Linked DNA regions of Homo sapiens. The protein of the gene in region 2 interacts with the protein of the main gene of each other region in a biochemical or structural test. Each region holds a gene or a part of one and is shown on either strand. Other genes may lie near its edges.

Evidence for each region.
Region 1: the proteins of LBP (region 2) and CD14 form a complex in vitro, tested with the Homo sapiens proteins (one study listed by BioGRID).

What each region holds. Positions count from the first base shown.
Region 1 is NC_000005.10:140,630,847-140,637,741, reverse strand, and holds CD14 (monocyte differentiation antigen CD14 precursor), read left to right. Parts: upstream 1-4,566; 5' UTR 4,567-4,670; coding exon 4,671-4,673; intron 4,674-4,761; coding exon 4,762-5,886; 3' UTR 5,887-6,010; downstream 6,011-6,895. UniProt on the Homo sapiens protein: Coreceptor for bacterial lipopolysaccharide. In concert with LBP, binds to monomeric lipopolysaccharide and delivers it to the LY96/TLR4 complex, thereby mediating the innate immune response to bacterial lipopolysaccharide (LPS).
Region 2 is NC_000020.11:38,340,858-38,349,481, reverse strand, and holds the start of LBP (lipopolysaccharide-binding protein precursor), read right to left. Parts: upstream 3,001-8,624; 5' UTR 2,966-3,000; coding exon 2,842-2,965; intron 1-2,841. UniProt on the Homo sapiens protein: Plays a role in the innate immune response. Binds to the lipid A moiety of bacterial lipopolysaccharides (LPS), a glycolipid present in the outer membrane of all Gram-negative bacteria.

The DNA.
Region 1 (6,895 bases), on a different chromosome or scaffold from region 2:
TTGTGGAGACCCAAGTTCTTATTTGCAGAGGAAACCTTCAAATCCTAGGCTTCAGAGAGAATGGGTTGTAAAATGTTTCTTATCAAACTTAAAGTCTGTGTTGATGTTAACGGTAGAGAGGTATAATGAGGCACGTTCAACCCCTACTTCCCATCATGGCCTGAAACGGTCACTCGGGTTTAATTTTGAAAGAGCCCTGGCTGAGGAGGAAGTCCATTCAGATGGTTGTGGGGGGCGGCCTTAGAATTTTATTTTTGCTTTACAGAATGTTCACCACAATGACCATTATTCTCATTTTATATGTGATGAAAATGAGAAAGATATCATTATTTCACTTCTCTGCATAAAACTGAATTCCCATAATTTTTAGGATAAAATCTTTCACCAAATGTGGAGTGCCACTAGTCTACTAGGCACTGAGGAAACACTAGTGAATAAAAAACCGTGTTCCTCACATTCAAAATTGGAATTGTGGCCGACTTAGCCCTACATGGTCTAACCCCTGCATACCTCTCCAATCTGGACTCACCTCTTCTGGGACCTTCTCTTTGTCAACAAGCCCTGTTCTTTTTCTCCTCCACCCTACTCCCACTCTTGGGGGAGGCTCTCGCACAAGCTGTTTTCTCTGCCTGCATCCTTCCCTTTTCTTTCTACCAGCATCCTTCCCTCAACACCATTCTCAACATGTCAAGTCCAGTGTCACCTACTCAGAACCATTGTACCAATGACCCAGCTTCTTCACAACCCTTTTCACAGCTATCATTAAGTTATAGTGTAATTATTTGATGTTGTCTCCTCCCAGACCCCCTTGGCAGCTCCAGAAGATTAGGGTCCCGGTGGCACCTAAGAATTTTTACAGGAAACCTCTAATTTTTAAAAAGCCATATAACTTAGGCAAAGGTTCAATTAAGTACAAATCTAGGAAAAAGGTTATTCTTAAAACCAATTTCTTTCCCTTGAACTTAATTCTACCCCTTGGAGTTAATCAATGAAGTCTGCAATCTCTTCCACAAAACAGCATGTTAAAATATCTACAGGCCATCATTCCATCCTCCATATCTTCTCTCCCAGTATCCATCCAGCCCCTGGAGAGCCATTTACTGAGTACCTGCTGTGCACCATGCTCTGGCCAGGGATAGGGCCTGGATCTTGAGCCCTTCCTCATGCAACTGTCTGGCTTCTTTTTTTAATTTTTTAATTAAAAAAAATTTATTTTCTTATTTCCCCAAGAAAAACTTTTTTATTTTTATTTTATTTATTTATTTTTTTTTTTGAGCCAGGGTCTTGCTCGGTTGCCCACGCTGCAGTGCAGTAGTGCAATCATGGCTTATCACAGCCTGGAACTCAGCCTTAAATGATCCTTTCAGCTTGGCCTCCCAAAGTGCTAGAATTACTGGCATGAGCCACTGCACCTAACCCAGGCTAGCTTCTAAGACCCACACTTGGCCCAGCAAGGTGGCTCATGCCTATAATCCCAGCACTTTGGGAGATGGAGGCAGGTGGATCACCTGAGGTCAGGAGTTCGAGACCAGCATGACCAACATGGTGAAACCCCGTCTCTACTAAAAATGCAAAATTAACCAGGTGTGGTGGCACGTGCTTGTAATCCCAGCTACTCAGGAGACTGAGGCAGGAGACTCGCTTGAACCCAGGAGGTGGAGGTTGCGATGAGCCAAGATTGCATCATTGCACTCCAGCCTGGGCAACAAGAGTGAAACTCCATCTAAAACAACAACAATAACAACAACAACAAAACCCACATGTGCTCCAGGTGGGGAAGATGAAAAAAGTTCCCAGCCAAAAGCTATATTCTGCCCAGTGTCTGCTCAGACAGCTACAGCTGCCCAAATTGCCTTTCTGTATCTACCTGTCTAGCAACACTGTTAACCCTGTAAGAACCAGCCCCATGTCCTGTCTTGTACAGGGCTGGCTGTTCCTTTCTCCAGACCATGTTCCTCCCCTCCACCCCTCTCCCCCAACAACACAAGCCTTTGGTTTCTCTTCTTTTAAGAGCCCTCTGCACTATGGACGGAAGTTCTGGGTTCATGTTTGCTCTACCCACCTCCTGGAGCACTTCAGGGACTTGTCTTTGTCATGTCTGTGTCCCAGGGCTTTCTACCAACCCTAGTACTCGGTAGACAAATGATAGACATTTGTTGAATCAAGCTGTGAGTTGGAGATCTTTGCAGAACCATCACTGCCCCTCTTAACTTGGAACTCCCCACCCAGAGTGCCTCCCCTAAGATGATGAGGTGTCAGACTTCAGTGGCCTGAGTTCTCTGAAAGCAGAGACTCTGAGAAAGAAGACTAGTCATCAAGACCACACTAAAAAGATGTGTTTCTGTGCCAAAGACTTTACTCACAAACAGGTAATACTATCATCTCCATTTTACAGAAGGGAGGCCCAAGTCTCATAACCTCAGTCGTAAAGCTGGGATTCCAAGACTGGCTATCTGACTTTGAGTCAGATATAATCATATCTTGGTCCTCAGGGATATCACAGAGGCCTGGCATGGCACCAGGGCATGGCCCAGTGCATTGGGGTATGCCCAACAGGACCCGCAGGGGGCAGTGATGAGCCTTCTTGTTTGGATTGGGGACAAATCTGCAGCTACTTCTTTCTCAATTAAAGAGGAAGTGGGAATTTAAAAAAGACTTTCTGCCGGGCACGGTGGCTCATGCCTGTAATCCCAGCACTTTGGGAGGCCGAGGCAGGTGAATCACCTGAGGTCGGGAGTTCGAGACCAGCCTGACCAACATGGAGAAACCCCATCTCTACTAAAAATACAAAATTAGCCGGGTGTAGTGGCACATGCCTGTAATCCCAGCCGCTCGGGAAGCTGAGGCAGGAGAATTGCTGGAACCTGGGAGGCGGAGATTGCAGTGAGCTGAGATCGCGCCCAGCCTGGGCAACAAGAACAAAACTCCGTCTCAAATAAATAAATAAAAGTAAAAAAGACTTTCAGGCCGGGTGTGGTGGCTCTCGCCTGTAATCCCAGCACTTTGAGAGGCCAAGGCGGGCGGATCACCTGAGGTCAGGAGTGCCTGGTCAACATAGTGAAACTCTGTCTCTACTAAAACTACAAAAATTAGCCGGGCATGGTGGTGGGCTCCTGTAATCCCAGCTACTCAGGAATCTGAGGCAAGAGAATTGCTTGAACTTGGGAGGCGGAGGTTGCAGTGAGCCAAGATCACGCCACTGCACTCCAGCCTGGGCAACAGAGCCAAACTCAGTCTCAAAAAAAAAAAAAAAAAAAAAGACTTTCATATAGTTCTTTCCCCAGAGGTCTAGGGATGTGGACCTGTGAGGGCTGTTGTAAATGCGTAGCTCCTTATTCTCTGGGACATTTGTTGTTTTTTTGTTTTGTTTTGTTTGCTGTTTTTTTCATTTTGTTTTGTTTTCTGTTTTTGTCTGTTTTTTGCGAAACTGGTGAGTTACTAATTAATCCTCATTCAACATAGTCCCATCCCTTCCTTCCTAGGGCACAGAGATTGTACTGAGGGGAGGGCAGGAGAGAGCAACGTGCAAGTGGGAAAACTGATTCAAAATACCTTGCTTCACAATTTCAGGACAGAAAATGGATAGTGTAAGTGACCCAGAGACTTGGCCAATGTGTCTCTGTTAAATACATCCACTTTTAAGAAAGTTAGTACTGCCAGGCACAGTGGCTCACGCCTGTAATCCCAGCACTTTGGGAGGCCGAGGCGGGTGGATCACAAGGTCAGGAGTTCAAGACCAGCCTGGCCAAGATGATGAAAACCTGTCTCTACTAAAAAATACAAAAATTAGCTGGGTGTGGTGGTGGGCACTTGTAATCCCAGCTACTCGGGAGGCTGAGGCAGAGAATTGCTTGAACCCAGGAGGCGGAGGTTGCAGTGAGCCGAGATCATGGCACTCTACTCCAGCCTGAGCAACAGAGCAAGACTCTATCTCAAAAAAAAAAAAAAAAAAGAAAGAAAGTTATTACTTAATCAAAGGAGCAAGGAAAAAAAAAGGAAGGGGGAATTTTTCTTTAGACCAACTTCCTTTTCTTGAACCTAATTCTACCCCCCTTGGTGCCAACAGATGAGGTTCACAATCTCTTCCACAAAACATGCAGTTAAATATCTGAGGATATTCAGGGACTTGGATTTGGTGGCAGGAGATCAACATAAACCAAGACAAGGAAGAAGTCAAAGAAATGAATCAAGTAGATTCTCTGGGATATAAGGTAGGGGGATTGGGGGGTTGGATAGTGCAGAGTATGGTACTGGCCTAAGGCACTGAGGATCATCCTTTTCCCACACCCACCAGAGAAGGCTTAGGCTCCCGAGTCAACAGGGCATTCACCGCCTGGGGCGCCTGAGTCATCAGGACACTGCCAGGAGACACAGAACCCTAGATGCCCTGCAGAATCCTTCCTGTTACGGTCCCCCTCCCTGAAACATCCTTCATTGCAATATTTCCAGGAAAGGAAGGGGGCTGGCTCGGAGGAAGAGAGGTGGGGAGGTGATCAGGGTTCACAGAGGAGGGAACTGAATGACATCCCAGGATTACATAAACTGTCAGAGGCAGCCGAAGAGTTCACAAGTGTGAAGCCTGGAAGCCGGCGGGTGCCGCTGTGTAGGAAAGAAGCTAAAGCACTTCCAGAGCCTGTCCGGAGCTCAGAGGTTCGGAAGACTTATCGACCATGGTGAGTGTAGGGTCTTGGGGTCGAACGCGTGCCACTCGGGAGCCACAGGGGTTGGATGGGGCCTCCTAGACCTCTGCTCTCTCCCCAGGAGCGCGCGTCCTGCTTGTTGCTGCTGCTGCTGCCGCTGGTGCACGTCTCTGCGACCACGCCAGAACCTTGTGAGCTGGACGATGAAGATTTCCGCTGCGTCTGCAACTTCTCCGAACCTCAGCCCGACTGGTCCGAAGCCTTCCAGTGTGTGTCTGCAGTAGAGGTGGAGATCCATGCCGGCGGTCTCAACCTAGAGCCGTTTCTAAAGCGCGTCGATGCGGACGCCGACCCGCGGCAGTATGCTGACACGGTCAAGGCTCTCCGCGTGCGGCGGCTCACAGTGGGAGCCGCACAGGTTCCTGCTCAGCTACTGGTAGGCGCCCTGCGTGTGCTAGCGTACTCCCGCCTCAAGGAACTGACGCTCGAGGACCTAAAGATAACCGGCACCATGCCTCCGCTGCCTCTGGAAGCCACAGGACTTGCACTTTCCAGCTTGCGCCTACGCAACGTGTCGTGGGCGACAGGGCGTTCTTGGCTCGCCGAGCTGCAGCAGTGGCTCAAGCCAGGCCTCAAGGTACTGAGCATTGCCCAAGCACACTCGCCTGCCTTTTCCTGCGAACAGGTTCGCGCCTTCCCGGCCCTTACCAGCCTAGACCTGTCTGACAATCCTGGACTGGGCGAACGCGGACTGATGGCGGCTCTCTGTCCCCACAAGTTCCCGGCCATCCAGAATCTAGCGCTGCGCAACACAGGAATGGAGACGCCCACAGGCGTGTGCGCCGCACTGGCGGCGGCAGGTGTGCAGCCCCACAGCCTAGACCTCAGCCACAACTCGCTGCGCGCCACCGTAAACCCTAGCGCTCCGAGATGCATGTGGTCCAGCGCCCTGAACTCCCTCAATCTGTCGTTCGCTGGGCTGGAACAGGTGCCTAAAGGACTGCCAGCCAAGCTCAGAGTGCTCGATCTCAGCTGCAACAGACTGAACAGGGCGCCGCAGCCTGACGAGCTGCCCGAGGTGGATAACCTGACACTGGACGGGAATCCCTTCCTGGTCCCTGGAACTGCCCTCCCCCACGAGGGCTCAATGAACTCCGGCGTGGTCCCAGCCTGTGCACGTTCGACCCTGTCGGTGGGGGTGTCGGGAACCCTGGTGCTGCTCCAAGGGGCCCGGGGCTTTGCCTAAGATCCAAGACAGAATAATGAATGGACTCAAACTGCCTTGGCTTCAGGGGAGTCCCGTCAGGACGTTGAGGACTTTTCGACCAATTCAACCCTTTGCCCCACCTTTATTAAAATCTTAAACAACGGGTCCGTGTCATTCATTTAACAGACCTTTATTGGATGTCTGCTATGTGCTGGGCACAGTGCTGGATGGGGAATTCATCATACTTAGGCTTTCTTCATCCTAACTCCCTAAGAAACCCTATCTGTCCTCCTCAAGAAAAGAACTGCGGGGATAGAAGGAGCCAGGAAAGGACTCCTGGCTAGGGCTGCATGGGAGAAACAATGAGTGTGCAGTCAGGGCTTTCTGAGCAGATTATTGGCATCTGGATTAAAAGGTATTTGCATGATATTTGGAAGATACAAAATATTTCCTCTCCTATGCACTTCCCAAGAGCCAGCTGCTCCCTTTCAAAGGTAATAAAACCCACAGCCATTTGCTTATTTCCTTATTCTTTCTCTCTCTCACACACACACACACTCACACACCCTCCCTCTCCCTCTCTGTCTGTCTCCCTTACCACTCAAGGAAGAGGGACAGCCTCCTATCCTGCACAAGCTCTGAGTTTCATAATATTAGGGTTCCTCTCTTGTAAAACCTCTCTTCACCCGGAGGCTTTCACTGTGTCACTCCCCGACATAATGGGAAATTTGGGCCTAGGGAACTGACGCAAGATACAGTCGGTCTCTGAATTAGAGATCCTGTGTTCTGTTAGAACACATATGCAGATAACCTTTTCAGGCTGACTGATTGGCAAATAGGAAAGCATCTCAGACTCTTCAAAACTTCAGAATAAACAGGATTTGTCCTCTAGTCCACATTAGCTCAGAGACCTACAGCATCAGCCATCAAGAGGTGCTGTTTCTTCTGAGCCCCTTCTTCATTTCAATGAGGAGGCAGCCACATCCATCAGAGAGCTAGATGCCTGCCTCACAGGGAGCATGGGAGAAAGGTGGGAGGAGGCATATAG
Region 2 (8,624 bases):
GGTGGCTCCCACCTGTCCTCAAGAGAGGGGCCAACATCCTTATTAGCATTAAGTACAATGACAGGATATGAGCCCCTCTGTGTGCCAGGTAGCATGAGGGACATTCAGAGGTGTCCCTGCATTTCTGTGGCATTGTTAGGTTCATGCCCATTTTACTGATGAGGAAATGGAATGCCTTTGCCAACAAATCCCCAAGGGCAAAAGTGCTGTGCGCTTGGACGGATAGTCCTCCTTCTTGTTCTCCATGACATCTGGCCTGTGTAGAAGAAACTGGAAGGATCTGGGGGCTAGAGAAAGAGGGCATCTTTCTAGCTGGGTGACTTTGACAAAGTCCCCAAACAACCTTCACTTTGTTCATCTGTCAAATAGCAATGACAACAATACATTTGCTGGGCGTGGTGGCTCACGCCTGTAATCCCAGCACTTTGGGAGGCCGAGGAGGGCAGATCACCTGAGGTCAGGAGTTCGAGACCAGCCTGGCCAATATGGTGAAACTTCATCTCTGCTAAAAAATACAAAAATTAGCCGGGCATGGTGGCAGGCACCTGTAGTCTCAGCTACTCAGGAGGCTGAGGCAGGAGAATCACTTGAACCCGGGAGGCAGAGATTGCAGTGAGCCGAGATCGCACTACCGCACTCTAGCCTGGGCGACAGAGTGAGACTCTGTCTCAAACAAAACAAAACAAAACAAAACTAAACTAAACTAAACTAAACTAAACTAAACTAAACTAAACTTTCCTCATTGGCATGCCATTGAAACTGCAAAGCAAGAAGGGGGCTGTGAGGATAACAAGCACTCCTAGCTTGGTGCCTGACACACAGCAGGCACTCAGTAAATGCCTGGAACAGCAAATAGGGTTTATATTATTAAAAATATGGAAAGGGGTCGGGCGCAGTGGCTCACGCCTGTAATCCCAGCACTTTGGGAGGCCGAGGCGGGTGGATCATCGAGACCATCCTGGCCAACATAGTGAAATCCTGTCTCTACTAAAAATACAAAAATTAGCTGGGCGTGGTAGCATGTGCCTGTAATCCCAGCTACTCGGGAGGCTGAGGCAGGAGAATCACTTGAACCAGGGAGTCGGAGGTTGCAGTGAGCTGAGATTGTGCCATTGCACTCCAGCCTGGCAACAGAGTGAGACTCCGTTTCAAAAAAAAAAAAAATATGGAAAGGACCAAAATGTCCAACCTCAGAGGACTGGTTACATAAACATGGTGTGTGTGCACAGTGCAAAGGAACAAAAGAGAAACTTCCCTGATTTACAGTTTCAATGCAAGTAGCAGTTACCAGGTCCCACTGTTCCGAGATCTGAGGGGCCCAGGTTTCTGTCCCCAAGGCAGACATGGGTACACAGATGACCAGCAGCCTCCCCTTTCACCTCTTTCCAATTTGCTCTTCTCCCTCTAGCAAACGCACATGTTGGGGTCCTTCCGCCTGGAACGCTACCCCTTGTCCCTGGGTAATTCCCACTGTCTTTTCCATTTTACTATATCCTGGAATCCTTCCCTGATTTCCCTCTGCCTGTCTCGAGCCAGTCTGGGCTCCCAACAACCCTATCTAAGGGAATGTTGTTATCTCATTTAATAGGTAAGGCAATTGAGGCTCTAGGGATGTGAGAAGACATGTGGTCAGTGCCTGTCCATATCCTTGAGTCTTTCCAGTGAGTGACAGTTGACTCCCAGCTGCCAATGTCTGCCTCCCTGAGCCTGTATGTCCCGAGGCTTTTTGTCCTGGAACTGCAGAAAGCAGGTACATGCAACAGGACAGAAGTGCTGGGGAGTTGACAAACCCCCGGCCCAGAAGCCCTCAATCAATCACTGTGGTGTATAAATATCCCAGTTCCCATGCCACCTGGATAGTCGGGAGGCTTTGTTTCAGTATTTAAAAAAAAATACTCCTACTTTTGCTCATTCTTTGTTTTATTTTTATTTATTTTTTTGAGACAGTCTCCCTCTGTTGCCCAGGCTGCAATGCAGCAGCATGATCTCGGCTCACTGCAACCTCTGCCTCCCGGGTTCAAGCGATTCTCCTGCCTCAGCCTCCCAAGTAGCTGGGATTACAGTTGGCTGCCACCAAGACTGGCTAATTTTTGTATTTTTAGGAGAGGCGAGGCTTCACCATGTTGGCCAGGCTTGCCTCGAACTCCTGGCCTGAAGCTATCCACCCACCTCGGCCTCCCAAAGTGCTGGGATTACAGGCGTGAGCCACTGTGCCTGGCCTGCCCATTCTTTAAAATTGAGGAATAATATACATAAAGTACCTAACGGGCACAAATTTTAAAGGTATTGCTAAATAATTTTTAATGTTTATACAGGAATGTGATCACCACCTGGATCAAGATATGGCAACTTCCAGCACCCCGGCAGACCTCCCTCATGCCCTTCAGGGTCTCTGCCTGCCTCTAGAGGTGACCACAATTCTGACTTCCAGTTCAGAGGCATGTGTTTCCAAACTTTACGCAGAATTTTCCCAGCTGAGTGGTTCCCATCATCAGAGGTGGTGGCTGGTTTAATTGCACACTCTCTCCTGGCTGCCCTCCCTTCCTCATCTCAGTACCGATTCCCTACAGTGTTTCCTGGAATCATTTCCCAAATCAACTACTTGCACGCAAAGCTGTGTTCTGTTGGCTGGTGGAGGACCTCACTACCACAAATAACATGCCCAGGGCACTCAGCTGGTGGGCAGTAAGGCCAGAATAGGAGCCAGAGCCACCTGACCCAGAAGGTGGCACTGCCCCAGGGAGAGGGTCCGGTCTGTGTCCCCACTCCCTGTCCCCACTGTACCCAGAGCAGCCTGGAGCGTGGGTTTGCCAAGTCCAGCCAGCAGATGTGGCTTCTTACCATACTGCAGTCCCTTGTCGGTGATCCTGGCGACCAAGCCGGGGTTGGCACCCAGAGCCTCTGGGGTGGACGTAAGCAGCAATGCCAGCAGTATGGACGGCAGGGCTCTGGCCAAGGCCCCCATCCTAGATTCCCAGTGCAGTGGGCCAGGACTGTCCCAGCTGTGGATTGGGCCCAGGTCCCTTAAGTAGCCAAGGCTCGATGGCTGGGGGCAGTTCCTGAGGCTGGATGGGTTCCTGGGAGCGGGAAGGGGAGGCACAGGGACTGGAACCTGCTTGCGACATCACTGAAGTCATAAGGTCATACTTAGAAGCCAGTTTTCACTGCCCAGATCAGTGGATGAGGAAGCCTGACTCCTATGATCATCCCTGTCCACCCTCCCCACAGAAAGACCCCATATTCATCACTGTTCATCTTGCCTCATCTCAGCCAGTCTCTTAAGAGCTCGGCTAGGAAGGCCTGGTTTAGCAGATGAGGAAACTGAGGTTCAAAAAAGCCACATAGCTCCCTTGAGATCTCACCCCCAGCAGAGGGCAGGGTTGAGAGTGAAGCTACATCTGGCACCAACCAAACTCTCTTTTTTAAAATATATTGGCTCGTTTATTTAAAAAATAAATGTTTCCCCCAATGGGAAAACAGTGTTTCTCAAACCTTGCTGGTGGTGAAATTTTCTGGAAGGCAATTGGCAAATGTTTAAACAGTTGCATGCCCTGTGACCCAGGAATTCAATTTCAGGGACTTGCCCTTAAATACATAATTGAGTCAGTGTGCCAGTAAATCACTGCTCCAAGATACCACTGCTATGCTGTGGGAAACAGGACAGGAGAAGTGAGACCCAACCTCATGTATCCACCAGAAGGGCATTGGTTAAATGAATTATGACATGCCCCTTAAAGTGAGGCTGCAGAAATAAAGGTATTTCTTGGCAAGGAAAGGGATGTCATGAGGCATCCGTTTCCGATGGCACCATAGAGTAAGGTTCTATTTTGGGGGGTTCAAAATAGGCTTCTATGTTCAACAATCTGGAAAATATTTAGCAAGGAGTCATGAGGCATTGTCTCTGGTTGTGGGGGTAGAATTATAAGTGTTAAAAAAGTTTTTGCTTGTTGATACGTACAATTTTTTTTTCTTTTTTCATTTTTTGAGACAAAGTCTACTCTGTTGCTCAAGCAGGAGTCCAGTGGCATGAACATCGCTCGCTGCAACCTCAACTTCCTGGGCTCAAGTGATCCTCCCACCACAGCCCCCTAAGTAGCTGGGACTACAGGTGTGAGCCACCATGTCCAGCTAATTTTTTGTATTTTAGTAGGGACGAGGTCTTGCTATGTTGCCCAGGCTGGTGTCGAACTCCTGAGCTCAAGTAAGCCTCCCGCTTGGCCTTCCAAAATACTGGGATTATAGACTTGGGCCACCATGCCCAGCCTCTAAAATTTTTATTTTCTTGGGGGTATGGTCCCGGGCATATATTCGCAGTAAGTAAAGATAGTAAAATTTCATTCTGGAAAACAAAATTTATAGTACAGACTGTGTTTAATTTTTAGAGTTTTGCCCCAGCCCTGCTTACATTTGTGAGTTCTGCTTTGCCCTCACCCCCAGGAAGCCTTCCCTGACCACTCCCATGCTTCTCTGGATTCTAGAAAGGGTCCCCTCTGAGGTCCCAGAACCCTTTGCGCTTTCCCCACCACAGCATTAACCACTCTGCTTTTTGATAATTGTGGTCCTTTAAAAATATGCCCACGAATTCTTTGATATTCCTTCCATCAAAAGGTAATGTTTCTGCCCCCTTCCCTTGAAATTGGGCAGGTTTTCATGATGGCCTCAACCAACTGAATGTGGTGGGATTAACAGGGTGACTCCCAATAGGTCACAAACAGCACTGGCAGGCACTGAGGTTAAGATCAGAATGTCCCACGTTAAGCACAGGGAACCCCACAGTCCAGGCCTCTCTGCTCCTCTGTACCGTGTTGCTCCTGTCACTGGGGCTGAGGTTTGTTGGGATCCTCATCCGTCCCTCCCCTCAGTCCCCACACCACCAGTCTGATGGCTCCTTGCAGGCACGGCTGAGTCTTCCATTTCCTGAGATCCTTGCAGCACCCAGCAGAAATTGGAAAGAAACTGATATTTATTGAGCACCTACTATGTGCAGGCGCTGTGCTGGTTAAGCTGCACGTCTCCTCTCATCCTTGCATCAGCAACCCCAGGTGGATATTTTAGTCTTGTCTTGAGATGAAGAAACTGAGGTTTGGCAGGGTGAAGTGATGTAGGCTGCAGTCACCCAGCAGGAATTTAAGTCCAGGTCTGCAGGATGCCATTCCAAAACTCTGGTCAGGGCAGGGTTCTCTTGGGAGGCAACAAGCTGAGCAGAGGCCTCAGGGTAAGGAGCCAGCCTTTGGGAGGCTTTGGAGCAGGAAAGGGCTCACAGGTGCATCCCCAGTGTGCCTAGGGGCCTTTGCTTCCTGGACCTCAGCCTGCCCAGGAGGGGAGGAGAGTGGGGGAGGACATTCTGGAGCATAAGGATCTTATGGGGACATAGATGTCACTCTTCCTCTGGCAGCAGTTTAAGGATGTCCCTGGCTGGGAGTCATTTGCAGGGGTGGGAATTTCCCACAGCAGCAATCTTTGGACCTTAGAGCTGCCACATGGCCCAGGCCTGGCCTCCACCCCTGCAGGTGCCCACTGCTGGCTAAGGTCCCTGCTGATGGCCCAGGACCCAGCAGAGGCCTCAGGGAGCAGCACGACCCCACTGCTGGTCAGAACCCCTGGGCCTTTCTCCTACCAGGCTGTCCATCCAATTCCACAAAAGCAACAGCTGCTACCACTCTGGCCACCACTCAGTCTTATTGCAGTGAAATAGGGACTCTTTTAACAAGGCTGTTTATTGTGTTCTTGTGCAGGAGAGGGCCCCCAGAAATGGCAGTGCATCAAATGATGGACAGGCGATCATAAAACTGTCCCTCTGACATGATAAGTGGCCACGAATGGCGCCAAGAGGGAGAGGAGTTCCCTAACAGATAGTTGACATCATCTGGAGCCAGCAAACCACAATTCCCTGGTAAGGTCGAGCAGAAGGGCAAATGTTGGAGTCTGACTTGTATATGACCTTTTTCTTGCGGCGACGGACCAGTAAGGGAAAATCACCCCAAGTGAGCATGCGCACAACCTTAGTAAACACACTGCGCATGCGGCCCCTCCCAAGTGCTGGCAGGCCATTGCGCATGCAGGGAGGGCGCAGCAGCCCACCGAAGGGAGGAATCAAGGAGGAGAAGAAACCCCAGAACCAAGCCAGTGTATAAAAGCCCCGAGCCAAAGGTTGAGCGGGGCACTTGATCTCTCAGTTGTACTTTGCTTCTTTCAATAAACCTTTGCCTCTGCTTTAAAACTTGCCTGCGTCTCTCAATTGAATTCTTTCCTCTGAGAAGACAAGGGCTGGGAGTGTTGCGGACTCGCCACCGATAATATTCTCACTACAAAAGTGTTACTGAAAAGATTTTGAAAAACCCAGAATTTGGAATCCATAGTGTCTAGAATACTGAGCAGCAAATAGTAGATAATTGCCAAAGGAATAAACAAACCTTATGTTTATCTTTATGGACTCTGGGGCCAGATGGCCTGGATTTGAATCCTGACTCCCCCACGGGGTGACTTTGGGCACTTTGTGACTCAGTTTCCTCATCTCTACTTGGGTTCAGCCAGAGGGTGGCATGGCAGGAGGTCAGATGTCAGGGCACTTTTCCCTGCTGTCTTCTCTAGATCACAAGTGTGGCAGTTGGCTGTGTCCCTCCTGATAAGGCCTTGTCCTTGGCTCCTATTATCTCCTTGGGCTGGGATACCCAGATGCTTTTCTTTGCTGCTTGAGCCTTAGGAAAAACAGTCCCTGGTTGGTTTCCTCAAGCTTGTCCCCCAACTCTAGAAATAGCCACTTTATTCAAATCCCAAGAACCAATGCAGTTGGATTCTCTTTTCTTGCCTGAACCCTGTTGGACACAATTAGCAACACTGAGCATTTCTTCTGCACTTATTCATCTTTTGTGCAAACGCCTGCCTCTCGCAGAGAGCTTTGAATCCTTTTCCAAAGTCTTACAGGTTTTTTGTCAAGGCCCTGCTCCTAATGGGCTGGGGGACCTGGAACAAACTCCACCCCTCTCTGTTCCTCATGTTTCCCCCAAATGCAGATGAGGGCTGGGGACTAGGACAGCTTTTCAGAAACAAAGACGTGCAGTCAAGTCCCCCAGGGATCTTGTTTAGATGCAAATCTTGATCCATCATGTTCCTCTTGGGGCTGAGCCTCTGCATTTTAACAAGCTCCCTGGTGAGGGTGATGCTGCTGACCACGGATTGTGCTTGGAGCTTCGGGAACAAGGGACTAAATGAGCTCCGAGTTCCCTCCAAGCTCAGCAGTTCTCTAATGCTTCACTCTCCTTTTCGATAGTTTTCTATGACGGTGCCCACACTCCTGAGAACACTGACTCTTGAAAGAGAATGATGTTATGAATTCCTGCAGTTCTGAATCTCTGCAGGGTACTTTGGAGTTGGGAGTTTAATATTTATGGCAGCCTCTCCCCAAGCCACATCACCTGCAGATCTGAATGTGTGCCTGTGTACGCACACGCACAGACACACACACATGAGCCCTGAGACATGCGGGCTTACAAAATAAAAGTAGTAACGTCAGTGACGATCCTTTGTGGCTTGAAGGTTGCGTGTCTTGAGATACCAGGAGCCCCCATGGAGCAGGGCTGGTCATGTGGATAAACAGCTCCTCACCCCAGAGAGCCCTTACTTTTACAGATGGGGAAACTGAGACCTAGAGAGGGAGAACTGGCCCAGGTTACACTGTGAGCCTATTGCTGAACTGGAGAGGATAAATCCAGAGTTCTGGCCAGCCAGGGGCTCTGATTCTTGGGGTCAGGCCCATTCAGGCAGACAGCCCTGGATCATACATTGAGAATCACTGGCATAAATGTTTTGAGTTATGCAGATGTGGGTTGAAATCCCAGATCATTTTTAAAATAAATACTTACTGATCACCAACTATGTGGCAGGCATTGGGAATACTACTGTAGCCAGATATAGTATTTTTTTTGTTTTTTTTTTTTTGAGACAGAGTCTCACTCCATCACCCAGGCTGGATGGAGTGCAGTGGTGTGATCTCAGCACACTGCAACCTCCGCCTTCTGGGTTCAAATGATACTCGTGCGTCAGCCTCCTGAGTAGCTGGGACTACAGGTGTGTGCCACCACGCCCGGCTAATTTTTGTGTTTTTAGTGGAGACTGGGTTTCGCCATGTTGCCCAGGCTGGTCTCGAACTCCTGGGCTCAAGTGATCCACCTGCCTCAGACTTCCAAAGTGCTGGGATTACAGGTCGTGAGCCACTGCACCTGGTCAGATATAGTCTTTACAGTATAGTAAGAAGAACTGCGTTTATTCAAATTAGAGCAAACTTGGATTACTGTTGTCAACCCCTGTACCACGGATTTGACATGTATTTGATTCTCATAACAACTTTATGAGGTAGGTACTATAATGATGTTCCCTTTATAGATGAGAAATAGAAAACCTGAGAATTAAGTATACTGCCCAAAGTCACACAGCTGGTAAATAGCAGACGTGGGATTTAAACCCAAGATATCTGGGATCATGGTTCATACTCTTAACCACTGTGCCATGACCCTATCAATCATACCTCTGATTCTTCCCAATAACCTCATGCCGAGAGGGCAAGATTTTAACTCTCCTTTTCAAAGGAGGAAATAGAGGGCCAGAGAGGTTAAGGAACATTTGCA